Homo sapiens: one gene and its partners. The protein of the gene in region 2 interacts with the protein of the main gene of each other region in a pairwise test. Each region holds a gene or a part of one and is shown on either strand. Other genes may lie near its edges. The genes, in order: RBL1, AOX1 and RCHY1.

Region 1 (3,653 bases), on a different chromosome or scaffold from region 2:
TTGGTAAGAATCTTTTAATGAGGTCCTTAAGAGTCTCAGATTATATCAGCATGTCCAGAGTTTGAATGCTGTATTAGGACGTTTTACGTTGCTATGAAGGAATACCTGAGGTTGGGTGACTTATTTAAAAAAAGAGATTTATTTGGCCCAGGGTTCTGCAGGCCGTATAGGAAGCATGGGGCTGGCATCTGCTCCTGGTGAGGGCCTCAGGAAGTTTACAGTCACGGTAGGTGAAGGGGGAGGAGGCACATCACATGATGAGAGCAGGAGCAATTGAGGGTGGGAAGTGCCACACTTTTAAACAGCCAGATCTCAGGTGAGTGACAACTAAACTCACTACCATGAGGAGAGCACCAAGCCATTCATGAGGGATCTGCTCCCATGACCCAAACACCTCCCACTAGGCCCACCTCCAACATTGGAGGTCACGTTTCTTTTTTATTTTTTTGAGACGGGCTTTCACTCTCTTGCCCAGGCAGTAGCATGTTCATGACTCACTGCAGCTTCAACCCCTCAGGCTCAAGTGATCCTCCTGCCTCAGCTTCCTGAGTAGCTGGGCCCACAGTCACACACCACCATGCTTTGCTAACTTTTAAATTTTTTGTAGAGACGAGATCTCACTGTGTTGCCCAAGCTGGTCTCAAACTGGTGGGCTCAGGTGATCCTCCAGCCTCACCCTCCCAAAGTGTTGGGATTACAGGCATGAGCTACCATGCCCAGCCAAGGAAATTACATTGCAACATGAGATTTGGAGGGGACAAAACATCCAAACCACATTAAATAGCTTTGGATGATTTGCTATTAATGTCTTCTGTCACCTTAAAAAGAAATTATAAGTATTGGCCAGGCGAAATGGACTCAAGTAAGCCTTTCCAATCTACATGAAATAATCAGAACATAGGGCCGAGTGCAGTGGTTCATGCCTGTAATCCCAGCACTTTGGGAGGCCGAGGCAGGTGGATCATCTGAGGTCAGGAGTTCAAGACCATCCTGGCAAACATGGTGAAACCTTGTCTCTACTAAAAATACAAAAATTAGCTAGGCATGGTGGTGTGCACCTGTAGTCCCAGCTGTCAGGAGGTAGAGGCAGGAAAATTGCTTGAAGCTGGGATGCAGAGGTTGCAGTGAGCCAAGATCATGCCACTGCACTCCAGCCTGGGTGACAGACTGAGACTCCATCTCAAAAAAAAAAAATTACAAGTATTATTCTGTATATATTGCTAGACCTTTAATTAAGTGAGCTTTGACATGACAAGTTTTCTATCTAAGACCACGTTAACATAGGGACATAAAAAAATGTACCCAGAATTGGCCTGGGCACGGTGGCTTGCTTGAACACAGGAGGTGGAAGTTGCAGTAAACCAAGGTGGTGCCACTGCACTCCAACCTGGGCACCAGAACTATTAAGTTTTTTTCTGAGTATGTGCTACCTTCTTTACTTTTGGTTGTGGAACCACACATTGGAACTCAAACTCTTGAATTTTACTCCTAACCTGTAACAATCTGGTGCTTTGTAATCAAATTCCCATTTGGAAAATGGAATTGTCTTTCCATTTGGGAGACTTCTGTTTTCCCTCAAACTAATTTTATTTTATTTTATGTTTTTTTTTTTAAATTTATTTATTTTTTATTGATAATTCTCGGGTGTTTCTCACAGAGGGGGATTTGGCAGGGTCATAGGACAATAGTGGAGGGAAGGTCAGCAGATAAACAAGTGAACAAAGGTCTCTGGTTTTCCTAGGCAGAGGACCCTGCGGCCTTCCGCGGTGTTTGTGTCCCTGGGAACTTGCGATTAGGGAGTGGTGATGACTCTTAAGGAGCATGCTGCCTTCAAGCATCTGTTTAACAAAGCACATCTTGCACCGCCCTTAATCCATTTAACCCTGAGTGGACACAGCACTTGTTTCAGAGAGCACAGGGTTGGGGGTAAGGTCACAGATCAACAGGATCCCACGGCAGAAGAAGTTTTCTTAGTACAGAACAAAATGAAAAGTCTCCCATGTCTACTTCTTTCTACACAGACACGGCAACCATTCGATTTCTCAATCTTTTCCCCACCTTTCCCGCCCTTCTATTCCACAAAGCCGCCATTGTCATCCTGGCCCGTTCTCAATGAGCTGTTGGGCACACCTCCCAGACGGGGTGGTGGCCGGGCAGAGGGGCTCCTCACTTCCCAGTAGGGGCAGCTGGGCAGAGGCGCCCCTCACCTCCTGGACGGGGCGGCTGGCCGGGCGGGGGGCTGACCCCCCCACCTCCCTCCCGGACAGGGCGGCTGGCCTGGCAGGGGGCTGACCCCCCCACCTCCCTCCCGGATGGGGGTGCTGGCCTGGCGGGGGGCTGACCCCCCCCACCTCCCTCCCGGACTGGGTGGCTGCCAGGCGGAGACGCTCCTCACTTCCCAGACTGGGTGGCTGTCGGGCGGAGAGGCTCCTCACTTCTCAGACGGGGCGGCTGCCGGGCGGAGGGGCTCCTCACTTCTCAGACGGGGCGGTTGCCGGGCAGAGGGTCTCCTCACTTCTCAGACGGGGCGGCCGGGCAGAGATGCTCCTCACCTCCCAGACGGGGTCGCAGCCGGGCAGAGGTGCTCCTCACATCCCAGACGGGGTGGCGGGGCAGAGGCGCTCCCCACATCTCAGACGATGGGCGGCTGGGCAGAGACGCTCCTCACTTCCTAGATGGGATGGCGGCGAGGAAGAGGTGCTCCTCACTTCCTAGGTGGGATGGCGGCCGGGCGGAGACGCTCCTCACTTTCCAGACTGGGCAGCCAGGCAGAGGGGCTCCTCACATCCCAGACGATGGGCGGCCAGGCAGAGACGCTCCTCACTTCCCAGACGGGGTGGCAGCTGGGCAGAGGCTGCAATCTTGGCACTTTGGGAGGCCAAGGCAGGCGGCTGGGAGGTGGAGGTTGTAGCGAGCCGAGATCACGCCACTGCACTCCAGCCTGGGCACCATTGAGCACTGAGTGAACCAGACTCCGTCTGCAATCCCGGCACCTCGGGAGGCCGAGGCTGGCGGATCACTTGCGGTTAGGGGCTGGAGACCGGCCTGGCCAACACAGCGAAACCCCGTCTCCACCAAAACCAGTCAGGCGTGGCGGCCCGAGCCTGCAATCGCAGGCACTCGGCAGGCTGAGTCAGGAGAATCAGGCAGGGAGGTTGCAGTGAGCCGAGATGGCAGCAGTACAGTCCAGCTTCGGCTCAGCATGAGAGGGAGACCGTGGAAAGAGAGGGAGAGGGAGACCGTGGGGAGAGGGAGAGGGAGAGCTCCTAATTTTGTATTTGTAGTAGAGACGGGGTTTCTTCATGTTGCTCAGGCTGTGTCTTGAACTCCCGATCTCAGGTGATCTCAAACTAATTTTATAACCTGTCAATCTGTTAACTAACATTAACTTTGTAAATTTTATGCAAAATATTGTCTAGGTAATATAGAGAATAAAGGAAGTAGATAGGTGCTCTCGCTCCCTCCATAGCAGTAAACTCTATGTGATGACCACTAATTAATAACCTGTATTCCCCTGGTGATCCTGGGAACGAAAGTGATTTCATAGTGAGGACTTTTTTTTTTTAATTAAATTTAGGCTTGAGGGATGGTGTTTGTTCTTTGTTCATGTAAGACAGTGTCTTGCTTTGTCACCCGGGCTGGAGTACATGATT
Region 2 (3,653 bases):
AAAACTAAGTCCACAACATCTAATTTATCGCTTCTTCCAACTTGCTTGAAAATTATTAGGAAGTTCTAATTGGTCCTCTGTAAATTTGTGGGGTTTTTTTTCGTTAAAAAATATGGACTAGTTTTCTATCATCTGCATTGTTAAATACTTACTCTTCATACCATTTAAACCATAAAACTATCTTTTTTTTTTTTTGAAATGGAGTCTCGCTCTGTCACCCAGTCTGGAGTGCAGTGGCACAATCTCAGCTCACTGCAACCTCTACCTCCTGGGTTCAAGCGATTCTCCTGCCTTGGCCTCCTGAGTAGCTAGGACTGCAGGCATGTGCCACCATGCCCAGCTAATTTTTGTATTTTTAATAGAGATGTGGTTTCACTATGTTGGCCAGGCTGGTCTCGAACTCCTGACCTCGGGTGATCCACCCGCCTCTGCCTCCCAAAGTGTTGGGATTACAGGCATGAGCCACAGTGCTTGGTCACAAAACTATCTTAAAGAGGAAGATTTGCATTCAGGGTTTTCAATTTGAGTAACATCCCCTAAAAGTCATACTATGAGAAACAGGTTTGTGATGTGAATATAGACATCAAAAGCTTCTTAGCTTTCAGTATTTTGTTATAGTTTTAAACTGTTCCTCTTCCTTATATATTAATTAAAGAACTAAAATTCTTCAGGTGTTGGAACAAGATATAAAAAAGTAAGATAACATCTCAGTAGTATACAAATTTATTAAAGATAATTTCTTATTCATGACTGTATCTAGTGGGGTTCCTGGTTATAAACAATAAATATTTGTTGGCTGACTTGATCAGAATATCAAAAGAGATATTAATATTTACTCCCTACTTGTAAAGTTTTAAGTGAATTGTGTTGTCAGGAAGAGGACTGCTAAGGTTCTATTCTACCTGAAACTCTGGGCTACTCTGTGAGATCTTTTCATCTATTTTTTAAATCTATTTTTTATTTTTAAAAAAATTTTTTAGATGGAGTCTCACTTTGTCATCCAGGCTGGAGTGCAGTGGCATGATCTCAGCTCACTGCAACCTCTCCCTCCCGGGTTCAAGTGATTTTCCTGCCTCAGCTTCCTGAGTAGCTGGGACTACAGGTGCGCACAACCATGCCCAGCTAATTTTTTTGTATTTTTAGCAGAGAGAGGTTTCACCATGTTGGCCAGGCCGGTCTCAAACTCCTAACCTCAAATGATCCACCTGCCTTGGCCTCCCAAAACACTAGGATTACAGGTGTGAACCACCACGCCCAGTCGATGTTTTTATCGATGAGAAAGCAAGGAAAACAAAAAGAGATGGGGCCTAGACTAGAAGAAACATTGCAAGACGCATTATAGGGTAAAAGATTTGCGAAGCATAGGAAGAGCACCTGTTTCCCTGAACAACCGGTTTCCTCAGGTATTTGGTAGAATTACTTCCTAAGTTTTGGAAGTTTATTTAACAGACCAAACAGATCCCAGGGAAAGTGTCATTTCTTTCCACAGAAGGAAAACGACAGATTCCTTTAAATGAGCAATTCCTCAGCAAGTGCCCTAATGCAGATCTTAAGCCTCAAGAAATCTTGGTCTCAGTGAACATCCCCTACTCAAGGAAGGTGAGAACATCCCACTGTCAATTTCCCAGTTGCACCTGTGATGCTATGGCTTGTTTATTCCAGTATATGGTGGAATAAGAAAAAGGGTGAAGTGTTTATGTGGGAGATAAAGGCTCAACTTCAGGAAGTGGTATGAGGTCATTATTTTAAGACTTGTGAATAGTTGCCTTTTCCTTGTATTACGCATGCCCCTATCATTCCTCGAATTAGGAGATTTTTTTTTTTTTTTGAGATCGAGTCTCGCTCTTTTGCCCACACTGGAGTGCAGTGGCATGATCTGGGCTCACTGCAATCTCTGCCTCCCAGGTTCAAGCGATCCTCCTGCCTCAGCCTCCCGAGTAGCTGGGATTACAGGTGCGCACCACCATGCCCAGCTAATTTTTGCATTTTTAGTAGAGACGGGGTTTCGCCAAGTTGGCCAAGCTGGTCTGGAATTCCTGACCTCAGGTGATTCACCTGCCTCGGCCTCCCAAAGTACTGGGATTACAGGTGTGAGCCACCACTCCCAGACTTATCTCTGCCATTCTCGCTCTTTCTCCCCCTACCCCAAGCTCTAAAGTAACTTTCTAAAAGGTTTTTGTCCCATAAGCCTTTCTCCCTAAATATGACATGAAGAGTATGCCTCTACCTATATCTTGGGTTTTGAAAAAAGCCTAAAAATACATTTGCAATAGAACTTATTGGAAAAAACATGAGGCTTTGCATGAGATAGAGTCAGGTTTGAATCCTGGTTTCAAGGCCTGAACTAATTACTGAATCCTTCTGCGCCTTGGATTCCTCATCTGTAAAATGGGAATAATCAAGCCTGCCTCAGAGGATGTATTAGTTTGCTAGGGCTACCATAACAAAGAACCACACACTGGGTGGCCTCAACAACGGAGAATGATTTTCTGGAGATGCTGGGGGCTGCATATCTGATATCAATGTGATACTCAACATACACATACCGTCCAGCACGTAGGTGATGCTCAACACACACACACTACCTGGTGTGTAGGTGACACTCAACACACACAGACTGCCCGGTGTGTAGGTGATACTCAAGACACACAGACTGCCCAGTGCATAGGTGATGCTCAGTGTTTCTACATGTGCCACTTAACTGTTTCTTTCAGTGGGAATTTGTGTCAGCCTTCCGACAAGCCCAGCGACAGGAGAATGCGCTAGCGATAGTCAATTCAGGAATGAGAGTCTTTTTTGGAGAAGGGGATGGCATTATTAGAGAGTTATGCATCTCATATGGAGGCGTTGGTCCAGCCACCATCTGTGCCAAGAATTCCTGCCAGAAACTCATTGGAAGGTAAGGCATTAGAAGTAAGGGCTCCTCTAATACTTGTCCTTAGACTCCAAGTATTAGAGGAGCCCTTTTTGTGGTGAGATGTGATTACAAGAAGAAAAGTGTTCCATACCTTTCTATTTAATGGCTGGGAATTCCAATAAGATTTTGTTATTATTTCCATATGTCTTGATGTTAGTGAATTCTGAAGTGGGAATTATATACTCTGTGTGCGTGTGTGTGTGTGTGTGTGTGTGTGAGAGAGAGAGAGAGAGACAGACAGACAGAGAAGCCCTCCCTCAACAGTGCAAATTTGTATTCTTTATTTTGGGAGAATAATTTGCCATGATGAAAAACCAATTATGTGAGTTTGTTCTATAATAAATTGTTAAAGGCATTTGCTTACCTGACTTCCTATATCTAAAGATGACACTAATAGCTAATATTTCTTGAGCATTACTTGGTATCAGCTGCCATAACAAAGCATAGTGATTAAAAGCATGAGCTTTAAAACTTGAGAAAGGCAGACTGGCCAAAATCTCAGTTTACCCTCTGTTAACTCCTCCATGCTCTCAGTCAGCTTACTTAATTATATTGGTACTTTGGTTCCCTAGCTGTCAAAGATGGGTGATCATACCTACCTCACAGGGCAGTTGAGAGGATTAAATGAGTGAATACATATAAGGTGCTAAAAGCAGATCTTGGCATGCAATAAATGTCCTAGTGAGGACATTTATTAGTGAGTAAATGAGGGTCAGTTACTCCTGGACTGTGGATT
Region 3 (3,653 bases), on a different chromosome or scaffold from region 2:
AGATCAAGAAACACAACATTCATAGCACCTTCATAGCTTCCTGTGTGCCCCCTCCAAATTAATACACTTCCCCAAAGGTAACCAGTATGCTGACTTTTGGAAGTTTTTAATGAATGGAATCATATAGTATATGCTCTTTTGTGTTTTGTTTTGTATGTTTTAAGGCCATGTCTTTCAGCGGTCACATACTTAAAATTATTACATTTTCCTGTATGATTGACCCATTTATTATTATATAATGTGTCTTTTTATCTTTAGTAATGTTTCCTGCCCTAGGCTCTACTGTATCTATATCAGCTTTCTTTCGATGAGTTTTTGCATGTATATCCTTTTCCATTTAGACATTTTTGTATACTTACATTTAAGTCATGTGTCTTGTAAAACAGCATATAGTTGAATTTTAATTTTTCAATCCAGTTTGATAAAACTGTCTTTTAATTGGAGTATATAGTTCGTTTTTTATTAAGGTAGTTAGGATATGTTCGTGTTTCAATCTACAGTTTTGGTAGTTTCTATTGCCTTAGTATTTGTCTTTTTTCCTCTCCTTTCTTGTCTTCTTTGGATTAATCTGTTGCTTTCCTATTTGCTTTTATTCTCTATAGGCTTGTTAGTTATACATTTTTCAATTATTTTCTTAGTGGTTATCCTAGAAATTATAACATACATCATTGGCTTACTAGAATAATATGTTTATCACTTCTTGGACAATATTAGGACCTTAAACACTAAGAGTCTTTATATGCTATTGTTGTTATATATTTACCGTTTCTATTGCCCTTCTTTCCTGTAGGTCTCCAGCATTATCTTTGGAGTTACTTTTCTTCTGCTTAAAGAATTGTCTTTAGTGTTTCTTTTAGTGAGGTCCTGCTGATGATACATTCTCTCAGTTTTTTTTGTCTCTGAAAAATGTCTTTTTTTTGCCTCCATTTTTGAATATTTTTGCTGGGTGTAGAATTCTAAGTTTACAGGTATTGGTTCCCCTGACCTCCCAACACTTTAAAGATATTCTGATTCCATGGTTTCTGTTTAAAAATATCATTTCTCAGGATTATTATTGCTTCTTTGAAGTTAAAATGTCTTTTATCCTCCTCTCGCTGTTTTTTAAGTCATTGGTTGTTAGTATTTTTTCCGTGTGTCCAGGTTTGATTGAGTGTAATATTTATCTGGCTTGGGGTTTGTAGCATTTGTTGAATCTGTGGCTTGATGTCTTCTGTCAATTTTGAAATATTTTTGGCCAGTTTCTCTTCAGATAATGTTTCTGTACCGTTTTCCCACCTCTTCTGAGACTCCATCCCATAGATCTTTTTACTACATCCCATGTCTCTTTTTTTTTTTCCTGTATTTCTCCTACTTTGATTTTCTTTATGCTTAAATTGGATACTTTCCACAGATTAACTTCCAGGTCTCTCTTCTGCTGCATTGAATCTGCTTTTAAGCCTACCAAGTTATCTATTTATTTAAGTTATAAAATTTATATTTTATCTTCATTCTTGTTATTTTCTAGTTGTCAGGTGAAATTCTTTACCTTTTTTTTCTTTGAATGTATTGATCACAGATGATTTAAAGGACTGTGCCTAATAACTCCAATATCTTGATTATCTATGGGTAAATTTTGTTTTCTGTTTTTTCTCCCTTGGTGTTTGGTTCTGCCTTTTGACATGCTTGATTTTTTTTTTTAGTTGATTGTTGGACATAATATGTAAAAATTTATTAAGCTCTCGATGCTATTTTTTTTTCAGAGAGAATTTAATTTTCTTTCAGAAGGCAGTTAATGTAGGGATGGATAACCTTAATCCAATTTAGCATTGATATGATTAGAGACTAATTTTTGTTTTTTTTTTTTTTGTATGTCCTGTTCTATTTTTTTTTTTTCCTCCCTTTATTCTTATGCTCCTAGGACATAGTCCCTTGGAGATCTTGACTTAAAGCTAGGGTTGTTTACCAGGCCCATCTCTTTCGTGGTGGAATCTGGACTCCAAATTTTGGCCCCCTAGCATAGGAGTACTTTCAGAGGGTTTACTTAGTTTCTTAGGCTCTTACCTGTTGCTCTCTGTTTAGTTTCTTAGCTTGTCACAGCACAGTTTAGGGTCTAAAAATCTCCCAAGGAAGAAAGAAGTAGAGACTATTGACTTTGCCTCAGTATATTTGCTTTCTCTCTGAGATCTTTGCCCTTCAAGCACTCAGTTGCTCTTTACTACTTTTAAACAGCTTGTTTGTTTTCTTTAAATTGAGTTTTTCTAGTTCTCAGTAGGAGTTTTAGTCCTATAGAAGCTATTTCGTCATTGTGGAAGTAGAAGTTACAATATATGTTTCATTTTGCTTATTTTAAAAATCATATATATGGCCTTTTTTTCTTTTTGTTTTTTTACTGAGCTCTGTTTCTAAGATTCATCCTATTTGATTAACTCTAATTCATTTTCACTTTTGTAGTGTTATTTTGTATATCATATCTACACATAGCTTCTAATTACCACACACAACCAAGAAAATCATACCCTCTTTTATTGGTTGATTTATTGACATTCAAGTTATTGTTACTGCAAAGTACACATCTCATGCTACATGGTAAATATTAAACTTCATGAGATCATGGTATTTTCATATTTTAAATTTCTATACCTGGGAGTGCCTTATATCAGGGTCCCCAGTGCTTGGGGTGCGGATTCTGGTGCATGGCCTGTTAGGAACTGAGCTGCGCCCAGTGCAGGGTGAGTGGTGGGTGATCGACCATTACTGTCTGAGCTCTGCCTCCTGTCACATCAGTAGTAGCATTAGATTCTCATAGGAGCACAAACCCTATTGTGAACTGTGCATTCAAGGGATCTAGGTTGTGTACTCCTTATGAGAATCTAATACCTGATTATCTGAGGTGGAACAGTTTCATCCCGAAACCATCCCCCAACCTCGGTCCATGGAAAAATTGTCTTCCATGAAACCAGTCCCTGGTGCCAGAAAGGTTGGTGACCGCTGCCGTATATACAGTAGGTGCACAGTAATGTGTAGGCAGTATATCTTTGGCAGTGTTTTCAGTATTATGATAACCCTGAATATACTAGAAAAATTAGTCATCGCCATTTACCATTTAAGTATAATGGATTCTTTTTACTTTAAAAAATATTTTAAAGCCCTTTTGTGAATAATGTGCAGACGAAAGAATAAAGGATAGTGAAAATTAACTTCACTGGAAATTTTACTAAGAATTTGAACACTGCAAACCCAAATTTTAATTCCATGTATTCCAAGTTGAAGATAATGTGTGCTCAAATATGTCAGTGTCCTCTGTAACTGCTTTTGACCCTTGAACAATGTTGGGGGTTAAGGGCACCAAGTGCCAGCTCAGTTGAAAATCTGAGTATAACTTTCAACTCCCCACAACTTAACTACTAATAGCCTGCTACTGACTGGAAGTCTTATCAATAACACAAATAGCCAATTAATACATATTTTGTATGTTATATGTATTATATACTATATTCTTAGGATAAACTAGAGAAAAATATTAGGACAATCATAAGGAGAAAATATGTTAACTGTTCATTAAGTGGAAATGGATCATCATAAAGGTCTTCATCCTTCTTCATGTTGAGTAGGCTGAAAAGAGGGAGGAAGAAGAGAGATTGGCTTTGCTATCTCAGGGGTGGCAGAGGTAGAAG

Evidence for each region.
Region 1: the proteins of AOX1 (region 2) and RBL1 interact in a two-hybrid assay, tested with the Homo sapiens proteins (one large-scale study listed by BioGRID and IntAct).
Region 3: the proteins of AOX1 (region 2) and RCHY1 interact in a two-hybrid assay, tested with the Homo sapiens proteins (one large-scale study listed by BioGRID and IntAct).

Annotation. Positions count from the first base shown.
Region 1 is NC_000020.11:37,068,443-37,072,095, reverse strand, and holds part of RBL1 (retinoblastoma-like protein 1), read left to right. Parts: intron 1-3,653. UniProt on the Homo sapiens protein: Key regulator of entry into cell division. Directly involved in heterochromatin formation by maintaining overall chromatin structure and, in particular, that of constitutive heterochromatin by stabilizing histone methylation.
Region 2 is NC_000002.12:200,609,895-200,613,547, forward strand, and holds part of AOX1 (aldehyde oxidase), read left to right. Parts: intron 1-1,489; coding exon 1,490-1,599; intron 1,600-2,714; coding exon 2,715-2,899; intron 2,900-3,653. UniProt on the Homo sapiens protein: Oxidase with broad substrate specificity, oxidizing aromatic azaheterocycles, such as N1-methylnicotinamide, N-methylphthalazinium and phthalazine, as well as aldehydes, such as benzaldehyde, retinal, pyridoxal, and vanillin.
Region 3 is NC_000004.12:75,504,323-75,507,975, reverse strand, and holds part of RCHY1 (RING finger and CHY zinc finger domain-containing protein 1), read left to right. Parts: intron 1-3,653. UniProt on the Homo sapiens protein: E3 ubiquitin-protein ligase that mediates ubiquitination of target proteins, including p53/TP53, TP73, HDAC1 and CDKN1B. Mediates ubiquitination and degradation of p53/TP53; preferentially acts on tetrameric p53/TP53.